Homo sapiens: one gene and its partner. The protein of the gene in region 1 interacts with the protein of each later gene in a pairwise test. Each region holds a gene or a part of one and is shown in the gene's direction. Other genes may lie near its edges.

Region 1 (4,450 bases):
AAAAAAAAGAGCCAGCAGATTAAAGGAAGTCCATTTATAAAAATCAAATGAACCTCTAACAAAGCTTGTTCAGGACATGAATAAATCATCTGGTCATGAATTATTCATTGTTATCAAGAAACAAGCTGGGGATTCCAGGAACTGGGCTGGGGAGGCACTGAAACTGGGGAACGAGCGAGTTTATTGTCTCATACCCACCACAGGAAAAGAGAAGGACAGGCCAAGGGTGCCACCATCTGAGGCCGACCATGTCAGCCCTCCCTCGTGTTTCAGAGCATACGCTGGCAGCCTTTACACCTCAGAGGACAAAACAAATACAGTTTAACCCACAGAACCTAAATTTAGAAAACTGCATGTACTCAGGAAGCAGAAAATACGATTTTTTTTGAAGATTGTCTCTTTTTATTTAAGTTCACAATATACACGGGAAATATGAGCTGTGTGCAAAAGGTAGCAGAGTTGCAACTTTGAATTTCAAGGAGATGGCTAGAAAATTCCTTGATGATAAGTCAGTAGAGTAGTCTGACTTACTCATTTATGGCTTTGGGGCTTGGGTTTGGATGGTGGGGAGAAAGGGAGCCTCTCAGATTTAATCAACTAATCAATGTATCTGTGTGTTTCAGGTCCAAACTGCTTTGCAGGAACGACGATAATTCCAGCTGGCATTGAAGTGAAAGTGGACGAATGTAACATCTGTCATTGTCACAACGGGGACTGGTGGAAGCCTGCTCAGTGTTCGAAACGTGAATGCCAAGGCAAGCAGACTGTGTAGGACAAACTTCCACCCAATGATGAGTTCTTAGGAAAGGATGCTATGGCTTCAACACTGCACATGTTTAACACAAAACAAAACAAACAAACTCCTGCCAGCTACAACAGGGTCACCAGCAAAACTTTCTAGGGTTGACAAAAGTGAATATTTTCCTAAGAGGAAATTTCTTTCTCTCTTGCTATATAAAATATATATAGTATATAGCTATCTAAATCGCTTTTGTATTTACCAATGCTTGATGGTGACTTGACGACTGGATTGCTGGAACAAAAAGAAAGAAATAGCCTTGCACAGGCTCCTTCCCTGGTAATGCCTCTGACCTACCAGCTCACTGTCCCCTGGTTTACTTCATTTTTACTCTTCTGTACATTGTACATGGCATTGTTCTCCTGTAATATTTGTTTTTTCACTTTTAGAGTCTAAGGGGCTAAATTTGACTGCACAGTAAAGTTTTGAGTTGTGTAAAAAAAAAAGTTTGGTAAAGGAATGTCAGGGGAAATATCTTTCCCGAGCTGGGAAACACAAGAGCATCCAGTCAATTGCTCCCCTAGGGTGAATCATGCCCTGTAGACTAAGGAAAGAGGGGTGGGCACATAGACGGGCCTATTGCTGGACAGGGTTGGGAACAAGTACTTTGTCCATTACGTGGGGGCTCACAATTTAATTCTTACAAACCACACATTTCATATGGAAAACCTCGAAACTGCCAATCAAAATCTATTACGTAAAGAACACCATAAGCTCAACTAAAGAATCCAAAGAGAGACAGATCTTTAAAATTGTAGCATTAATCATCAGACTTTTTCATGATGTGAAATTTGAGTTTGGTTTGTAGCTAAACACACTCTAAACTCACTGTCATCAGGCAATATAAATACCAGAACCAGGGTGAGAAAACCCACTGTGAATCCAAATCCTTATGAACATCTCTGGCTTTTGAGTTCAGATTTGGCTAAAAGTCAGTAGTACACACTGGCAGTTTTTGTGGTTCGGGACTGTGTTTGCCATGTTGTAGTAACAACCACTCAGCCCTATGTCTGAAACACAGATTCAGGACACCCTTTCCACCTCAAGTGCTGATTTAAATTAAAGATTAGGGTAGAGTGAGTCTTGCACAATACAATTCCATTTGTTGAACATTTTTTAAAATGTATATATTAGATACTGAAAAATTAAAGTGAACCTTTGAAGAGTCTCTAGGTTGCCCTGGTAATGCTGCTAGTATAGTAACAGAAAAAACAAAACACACAGGGTATCTGATGCCACCTCGATTCAAGTGCAAAATTAACAATTCTGAAACCACATGGCATAGTTAGTCGCTTATTCCATGCTCCTGCCCTAAAAACCCTGGCACAGATCTGATAGGGTCCTTGAAGAGACTTTACAGTTGTCTTTATTATCAATGTTCTTTCTTTTTCTGCTCCCCCAACCTGGGCTTTGCCATAGCTCCTGTGGAGAGCCATATTCTAGAGCAAGGTGTCTCAATCTTAGTAGGATTGACATTTGGGGCCAGATCATTATTCGTTGGTGGGGGCTGTCCTGTGTGCTTTTAGGATGTTTAGCACCATCACTGGCCTCTATCCACTAGCAACATCCCAGCAACTGGTGACAACCAAATTTCTCCAGACATTGCCTAATGTCCCTAAGGAGTGGGAGTGAGGGGCCTAATTTCACCTCGTTGAGAACCAGTGGTCTAGAATAATCAGTATAGAGTGGTTTCTGGCAGGGGACACAGTAGGCAAGCTCTAGCAGCACCTGTGGCTTTTGTGAGCTTCTGATCCCTATGGGACATACACAGTCAGCATTTCCAAGGGGTCAGTCTTCTCCATAGAGAGTGAGGCTTCTAATGCTATAGGCCCACCCTCAGGAAACATATTTTTTTGAGTCTTGTCAACTGGTTTTTCATTTAAAATTGTCAGCCTCTCCTCCCTGGAAGCATCTGCTGTCATCAAGAAAGAGTTGTCATTTCCAAAATTAACGTGCTGACGAGTCAGACCTGACATTCTTATGCACACTGTGCTTGCGTTATGATACAAATAGCCATGCCGGCACCATCCCGAGGAAGAGCATCAAGCCACCTTCCCTTAGAACACCAATTTGCAGCAAGGTTGGTGCCTTTCATTTGCCACCATGGATACATCATATAGACAGTCATGAATCATTCATGAGCAATGCTGCATGATTTATGTCTGCACTCAAAAGTAAAGGAATTCCACACTTTAGCTTATGTCTAGACAGAGATGTATTATAGAGCTTTCTTTGCCCCGAGGTTGCCTGTTGCCAACTTCAAAAATCCACACTCTTGGAAAGAAATAATAATAATAAATGACAGGAATAAGGTTTGAAACTCAGAAAATATCATTAATAGAGCCATGCAGCATAGTACCTTATCTATTATTAAGGAGTTACTATGTCCTTTTTTAGAAAACAGAAAGAGAGTACAACTGGGAAGCTGAAGTGCAGAAATTTTGCATCAAAGCATTGGCACAGCGAGAGTCACAGCAAGAATTTACTAGAATTGAATGGGACATCCATTAAGGATCTCTCTTCAGAGAGTTTGCAGAAAGCAGGCTGTTCTGTGGCCTCTGATAACCAGCTAGAGAGAGGGATTTTTATGGTTGGTTTTGTTGTTGTTGGATTTTCTTTTTCTCAAAGTTTCACTGCAGGCTGTTTCCTTTAAGATTTTGTAGCACTGACATTTTTCCCCCTTTAGGGAGAGATGAACCTATACTGTGACAATTTCTCATAAACTGATAAACATTTTACAACTTCCTTCTACCCAGGTCATTGAGAAATTCTTTCCAGACTCTGAACAACAGAGCTCTGGTCTCATCTGTTGTTTGTTTCTTGTGAAGTCTTTGTTTGCAGCCACACTGTCATCTCTGTACTCCTATTTCTCCTCCGCCTTTGGTTCTCGGCTTTAACAACAGCTATGTTAAAATAAGGGATCAACATCTTGTTTGTCAGCTGATGCCTATTAAAAACGATTCAGTTTCTAAAATCTTTGAAAAATGGCGTGCCTGAAAACTAGTGAGAAAAAAAAAAAACCTAAACACTAAACTGTAAAAAGGGGATTCTAGCAACAATATTTGATGTGTAAAAGAATATATTATTAAAAAATTATTTTGTTAAATATAAAGTGTGTTAACCAGCAAACATTGTTTGTGGTATATTTTCCTTCCCACATTTCTCCTTTCTCCCTACCCTCATTATTTAATGACTAATTCTCGGTTACTTCTATCATTTGAAAGTACATGTGTCATTAGAGCTGTATTCAATTAGAATGAAGCATTAGCTTTTGCATTTGCCTGCACACATTTTCATTTTTCATAACGCAAGGCATTGCTGACTTGGGGATCCGAGAGGAGGCTCAAATAAGCCAGCAGTGACAGGGTAAGTGATAGGAAAAGTCTTTTCCTGACCCCAGATCCATATACTATGCTAACGATAATCTATAATTATTGAGTGCTGGCTCTGAGCCAGGCCCCGTACTAAGCTCTGTGCCCACAGGATTGTATTCAATCCACACAGCACACCTATGAGAGAGGAACTCTTGTCATTTCTGCTTTGTTCTTGAGGAAACCGGAATATAAAGAGGCTAAATGCTTTGCCCAAAGTCACAGGCTAGTAAGTAGCAAAGCAGGAATTCTTTATTATAAAAGTTTTCAAACATATATA
Region 2 (6,882 bases), about 150 Mb from region 1:
TTAACAAGAAGTTCTAGGCTACAGAAAAAAAAAAAAAGCGATTCTATGCTAGTTTCCTTCATTCCCCCACAGGGGTGTCCAAACAAAGAAAGCTTGTTCAACAAGTCCAGAAACTTAGAGAAAAAAGTCCACTAGCATTTATACTTCAGCGTAGATCGTATGTATGTGCACACAAACAAATTTCGTTCCAAGTATGCAGCCACCTCCAGTTGCCAGTCTTTCAAAATGATAAAAACTTGCTACGGTAGAATTCCTTCATGATGAGCATTTCTTTTAAGTTATTGAAAAGTTATTTTAAGTAAATGAAGTCGGTATTTGCCCTCTTTATTCGAGCACGAGAGCAGAGAGAGAGCTGCTGCTCTCTGGGGAACGCTCTCAGAATCCCGTTCTAACCCCGGGAAAACTCAGCAGACAGAAATCGCCCGCCCCAAGCAGCCTGGGGCCTGGGCGGCCAACAGCACCCACCCAGTTTACGCTTGATTCGAGGAACCTTCACTCCCGAGGGGCCTCGCCGAAAAGCAGCTCCTTCGCTCCCGAAGCCGCTCCCAATCGGCCAACTGACAACCCTTCCCTCGCCCCAGATTTGCTAGGATGGTCTGGGACCGCCGGGCGGCCCCTCTACCTGCCCCTTCAGCTTTAGTCCCGAGCCTCTCGGGGTTTCAATTTGGGCTGCTCGGTGGCGCCCGAACGCCCCTCAGCGGCGGTGGAGCGTGGACTCCGGCGCCTGGCGGGGTAAGGCCCGCGGCAAGGGCGCTGCATCCGGACATCGCTGCGTGGTGCCCAGACGCTGGCTCCCGAGAACGGGCACGAGCCCAGCACGCCGGAGGACCCGGAACTCGAAAGCCCGCGCTGCGGGAAAAGAGACTATCGGTCCGAGGGTCGCAGAGGAGCAGGGGCGTTGGCAGCGGGCTTGCTTGGGCACAGTCTGCGGGCCGGAGCAGAACTTCCGCCCCTGGTCAGATCCCTCGGCCTCAGATCCAAAGCCCTCCCCTTGTCCCAAGTGTCCTCCAGAGCCTGGCCGGGCCTGGAGGTCACCTGGATGCTGGATCCTTGTCTCCACACCCAGCTCCCTCGCCCCTTCCCGGCTCGAGGGCCTTGAGCTGGACGGCTTCACCTCCTCCAGTGGTGTCCCCACTTCCCCTTCCCGCACCGCGGCCGATGCTGGAACGGTCATGGCTTCTGGCCCAGCATCTCCCACCTGGACATTTGCCTAGCGACGGCCGCCTCAATCCTCTGCGCTGCTTTCAAGAAACTTTCATCCCAGTCTCTCTCCCTCTCCACTCTCCTCCCTCTCCCCCTCTCCTCTTTCTTTTCTTAATCCTGGGGTTTTATGGGCTGAGCGTTAAGAAAATTCGCCTGCAATTTGGGATTAGATAAATACTCTAATTAGGAAAAAAAAAATCCGTGCTACTTGATACCTCCCAACTTCCCCGAGAATGGTGGCAGCATCTGGAACCGAGAGCGCCGGCCTCCCGCGAGGCGTACCCCGGGGACCGCGCTGGCACATTCCAGAGCGCACTGCCGTCCCACCTCGCTGCGCCGGACCCAGGTCAGGTGCTGAGGCTGCAGGCGAAACAGGGCCTGGTGGAGGGAGGAATGAGTTAAGGTGGAGGAATGGGGCAAGGTCACGCGCCCCGGCACTGGAGGGCCAACCCCGGCACACAGCGGACTGGCCGGGACTAGGGCAGCGCCGGGCTATGGACGCGGACGCCGGCGAAGCGCACCCCGGGACGTCCGCATATTCTTTCCCCCAAAACTAGTGCGCTCCAGCCGGCGCCTTTCCTCGGAACCTAAGGAAGGGGTATATTTCGTTGCTTTCTTTAAACCTCAGCACGATCACAGTGGCTCCGAGCCGCGGGCGGCTGACCGCGGGCCTCGCGGGCTACTCCTGGTAGGGGCCTGCGCGAGCCTAAGGTGTGTCCCCGCCTGGGTTAGCGCTGCGCTCTGCACTGTTTCTTTTCCTCTTAAAGCTTCTTTCTCACTCACTCTCTCCCTCCTTCTCTCTCTCATTTTTTCCCCATTTCTCTCGTTCTTTTATTCAGCTTTCTCTCTTTCTCTCCCTTTTGTGAATGGGCCGCGGTGTCTTTGTTCTGTAGAGAAGCGCCCGTGTCGCTGACTTTTGTGAACCAGAGAAGGATCTTGTAAAACCTCCTTTTCTCCTTCGTACGCCCCCACTCCCACCCCTCCTCCCCTGCCTCTTTGATTAGATGTTCCCTCATCGTCAAAAAAAAAATGTAATTTCGTTGGTCTGGCGGCCACTTTCTTTGAACATTAGCTCGCTTTCAGCTCCAACTTCAATTAGAAGGAGTTGATTTTGAGAGATCAACAAAAGAACCGACCAAAGCCTTATTAAAGGTCCTAAGAAGATCTCCCGGGTCCTTTGAGAAGCAGTTAAGGAAACAGTGTGCCCTCCATCATATTCTGTTACCGTATTTTATTCGGACTCCAAAGGAAAGTGTCGCTTGGGGGAGGGGGAAGCACTTTGATGAGCGGCGGCCGCGGCCCCTTTTCACTCAGCGGGCTCCCCCTTCGTTCTCCTCCTCCTCACCCAGCGCCCGGTCCGCTCTCGGCGCCCGACCCCGCAGCCCGGGCAGCGCGAGTGCTCCCCACTGCGATGCGCCTGGAGGCTCCTTGACTTGCCCTCACACTTAATCCTGTGCAAACTTTTTACCCCGCCTGTCGGGGTGGGGGAGTGGGGGAGATTAGAAACAAGGGGTAGAAATTCCTCGAAAGGGAATAAAGTGCCTAATTTTCAGGAGGAGGTGCCATTTAAAAGATTCGCCTAGCTTAGAGTTGGAACGAAAACTCTTTTTTGCACTTTTAAAAGTCCACCCAGGTAGACGTGTTTGGGAAGTTTTTTCGGGTGGGAAATGGGCTTCGCCCGTACGAACAATCCGGGGAAATCGCCTCAAGGAGGATCCTTACGCAGCATGTGGAAAAAAGTTGAGGGCAGGGGTCTGTGGCCACATTTTCCATCAAAAAGTCCCTGTTAGAGGCAGTCTAAGAAAGAGAGAGAAAGAGCGAAAAAGAAACTTTCCTATCAAAATGTTTCAATTAAGAAGTAGGGTGTACGTGTGAGGGGAAGAGGACGCTGGGCTCCAACGTTTCAGTAGAAGCGCTTAAGACTTGCAAACACCCTTGGTGGGGACCTGGAACCCCGGGAGATGCCGACGAGCAAGCAGGTAAGTGGCGGCGCCCTCCCAGTGGGTGCTCTTCCCAGGCGCGAGAGTCCGGAGGGGCCGAGGAGAGATCTGCACGCCCGGAGCTGCTCCCGCGCTCTGCAAAGTAGCCTGCGCCGGCACGAGCAGCCCGCGGCGTCGGTCTCAGGTGGCGGCGCCGGGGAAGAAAACGCTGGGGCCCGCGGCGCCGGGAGAGGGGCCGAGGCCCGGGCTCCTCCAGCCCGCCGCCCCCGGGTCCTGGCGCCCACACCCGAGCGGCTGAGCCCTGTAGCGCGCGGGAGAGCGAAGGAACCGGTTCTCCAGCACCTCGCCTCCTCCCTGCCACTCCCTCCGGAGCGCCGAGAGCGCGAGAAGGGCGGGGGCGCCCAGGGCAGGCCTGGAGACCCACGGCCCCCTCCGCGGCCAGGACTCGGGCTCTCCGCTCGCCTTCCTCGCCTAGCTCTGCGCCGCTTTTGCCAGCCGAGTCCCGGAGTTAGCGCGCGACCGGGGCGGGGCGGGAGGGCGGGGAGGGCGGGGTGTGGGGGGCGGGGGAGGGCGGGGGCGCGCGGAGGTAACCCCCGGCTCGCGCAGCCATTGCCCGGCTCCCTGTCACTCAGCCCGCGCGGGGCCCCCGATTGGCGGCCTAGCCCCGTTACGCACTCGCCTCGCGTTCACATACCCGGGGAGGGCAGTAGAAAGGTGATCAATCTTCATCAGGCTACATTTCCAATCACCTAAACAACCGAGCAAGACAAGCCACTCCGACAAGGTAAATCGCTTGATTTATTTAGTTTGCAAAGTGACTCTGCAGGACTTCCCAGTCCCCACTGCCTCCACGTTGCACCGGGAGTGCCGCGGCAACGCCGAGCCACCTCCCAACTCTGCCCCTCGAATTCCCCCCCTTGCGGCCCCTCGGCGCGATCCCAGGCGAGGCAATGTCCTGAGAACGTGTGGGGCTTAGCAAACAAAGTGTCTGTGCAATAAAGTGAAACCCAGAAGGACACGCACAAAGCCATTGAAAAAAAAGATAGAGGTGGGAAGAAGGAAGTTGGGAAAAGAAAGAAACCTGGGGGTCCTAGACCAGCCGCCAGGGTAATTCCAGTGCTGCTCTGTTTTGCAGGTTGGCTGCCCGGCGGGTCTCTGTGAGAGATCCAGGTAGATGGTGAACGGCCCCGGCAGCTGAGGGCAGGTAAGGAGAAAGCCGCGGGGCCACCCCGGACTCCGGGAGCGCGTTGGTTACCCTTATCTCCCCCTCCTCAAATGGATCCCGGCTTCCCCGGTCCCCAGCAGGTGGTCGGGGCTGTGGGAGCGGCCTGGCTCCCCTCTTGGTGAGCCGAGGACCCCGGGGCGCTGTCGCGGCCCGCAGCCCCCTCCCCCGCCTCCTCCGAAGTAACCAAGCTGAAGTGCTAAGTTTGGAGAAAGTCTTTGAAAACTCACGCTGCAGCTTCGCAAAGCCGTCGCAGCTTTGAGTCCCATTTTCCTTCGGCCCTAGAGCCCTGGCTGCTTCCCTTCCGGTCCCCTTCCTACAAGCTGGACTCCCTCAGCCCAGGTCTTGGGTCCCAGAAGACGGGGGCGGGAACGGGGCTGGGGGGAGCTTCTTTAGCTCTAACTTCTCTCCTTGAACGTCCTAGCCCGAGTCCCTGGCTTGCTTCACAGCGATCCCGCTAAGCGGGGTGTAGCGATGGCCCCCCAGGGCCCCAGGCCCAGTTTCCAGCGCCCCTCCCTGACCCCTGAGAGTGGCACCCCGGGTTCCCGGCAGCGGCGGGGGCGAGGCTTCGACCTCCCAGCTCGGGTCTGCGTGGGCTACGCCGCTGAGGCCTAGTTCTCTGTTCTCGACCGTGTCCTGGGGCCGCGGGTTCAGCTACAAGGATGGCAGCACGCGACTTGCTGCCCTCCGGCTTCACAAATCCCCGAGACCCTTTGAGGTGCTAGGCCAGTCACCCTTCACCCCCTGCTGGGACCCTGCGGTCCGCAGCCCAGACTGGGCAGAGAGAAGGCCGGGTGCGCGCTGGCAACGAAGGACGCTGGCCGCAGCTGAGGCGCTCCCGACCTCAGGCCGCATCTTGGGGTCGCCCCCCTCTACAGTGGCCCCTTCGGCGTCCTCTGGCCCTCTGCGAAGCCTGGGCCCGTTACTGCGGTTGAGGTGCGGTGGGATTTCGCGTCAGCGATCTTTCAGTGGCTGGGCACAGAGAGGTCAGCTGGAGTGGTGATTGCGGGATCTGGGGCAGGGGCGCAGCCCTGGAGACCTTTAAAGGAACCAAGTGTCTAAGTGGACAAGAAGTGCAATTAGCCCTCCACATTGGCCCTTTGTAGTCTCTACCTTTTCAAAAACACGTGAAACAAAATGAAACAACGCCTCATGCTCTGGGCGGCCTGCCGTCCGGGCACCAAGTGAACCTTTGCTTGTGCAACATGAAGCTGGCTTCTGCCGGATTCAGAATTTTGCCTGGACTTGGGAGCTTGTACACTCCGCGGTTCTGGCTCTGACCTCCCCAGCCTGGCCCTGCTTTTAACTTCTCCTTACTCCTATGGACTCCCTACCAGTGTCTTTGGCTCATTCCAACCCTAGAGCCAGACGACCCAGAAAACTTTACTTTTCAAAGTAACTGTGGTTTCTGGGCTAAGGCCTTGTGGATCCCAGTTGACCACCCTGCGCAGTTCTGTAACCTGCCTTCCCTGTCTATCCCGGGGCAAGACTTGGCAGCCAAGTGGCTCCGATTGACGGTTTCCGTGTGTCTCGTGTCTTCATAGGCCAGGCCCCCAGACGCATCAGACCCTGAAGGACTGCGTGGTGGGAGCCCTGCACCGCTCCTGGCCCCGGGCCCCCTGGATCCGTCGGGGCGCCTCCACCCAGCTGTTAGCATGATGTCTTACCTCAAACAACCCCCATACGGCATGAACGGGCTGGGCCTGGCCGGGCCCGCCATGGACCTCCTGCACCCATCCGTGGGCTATCCGGGTGAGCACCAGCCCTCCCGACCCTGCCTCAGCCTCTCAAATGTTGGGGACCCCCAGACTGTTGGATTTGAGTGCAAGCTTTGTTGCTGAGCAGGCCCAGGGAGCCGGCTGCAACACAGGGCCCACTGTCTGTTTACAATACAGGGCCCACTGCCGGCGCATGGGGCAGAGTCGTGGGCGTGTGAGGTGGCCAGGGCTGAGAAAACGCGCAATATGCGCCTTCCCGGCCGGATCACCGGCAACCTTTCTCCGGTTGTGGTCCCACCGCCAGCGCAGAGCTCATTTACTTGCGGATTCGCTACCCAGGGGCGGCTAGTATTTTTCCTTTTTCCCCAACATGGAATGTGTAATCTGGACACTCGTTAGGCCCTGACAGAAAGAGCCAAACTTTCCTTATGCGAAGCGGCAGGCTGCACTGAAGGAGTATTCTTCCTCCCTAATTAAATTGTCCTCTAAATCGATGTCCTGCACCCATTTTTGCGCTGCTGTAGAGGACGACTTGAGCCAAAGCCGGGGTTTCTTTTTTAGCTCCCGCTCCTTTACCTCATTTATTTTCTCCGAAAGTGTTTTTCAGGTCGTGTTTCTGCCTACCTCTTCCCCACTCCCTGTCCCCCATCCAGAGTGTGTGTGTGCGTGTGTGTGCGTGTGCGTGTGTGTGTGCAGGGGAGAGGGGATGTAGAAGAAGGGAGATTGTAGACTTCTCTTAACTTTTTTAACCTCTGAGAGGCATAGAGAGGGGCAGCCCTCGAATCTTGGAGACACTGGC

Evidence for each region. The genes of interacting proteins can lie anywhere in the genome.
Region 2: the proteins of VWC2L (region 1) and OTX1 interact in binary tests that used the Homo sapiens proteins (3 or more experiments, as listed by UniProt).

What each region holds. Positions count from the first base shown.
Region 1 is NC_000002.12:214,575,049-214,579,498, forward strand, and holds the end of VWC2L (von Willebrand factor C domain-containing protein 2-like isoform 1 precursor), read left to right. Parts: intron 1-623; coding exon 624-772; 3' UTR 773-3,928; downstream 3,929-4,450.
Region 2 is NC_000002.12:63,046,971-63,053,852, forward strand, and holds the start of OTX1 (homeobox protein OTX1), read left to right. Parts: upstream 1-3,859; 5' UTR 3,860-3,927; intron 3,928-4,278; 5' UTR 4,279-4,347; intron 4,348-5,909; 5' UTR 5,910-6,020; coding exon 6,021-6,117; intron 6,118-6,882. UniProt on the Homo sapiens protein: Probably plays a role in the development of the brain and the sense organs. Can bind to the BCD target sequence (BTS): 5'-TCTAATCCC-3'.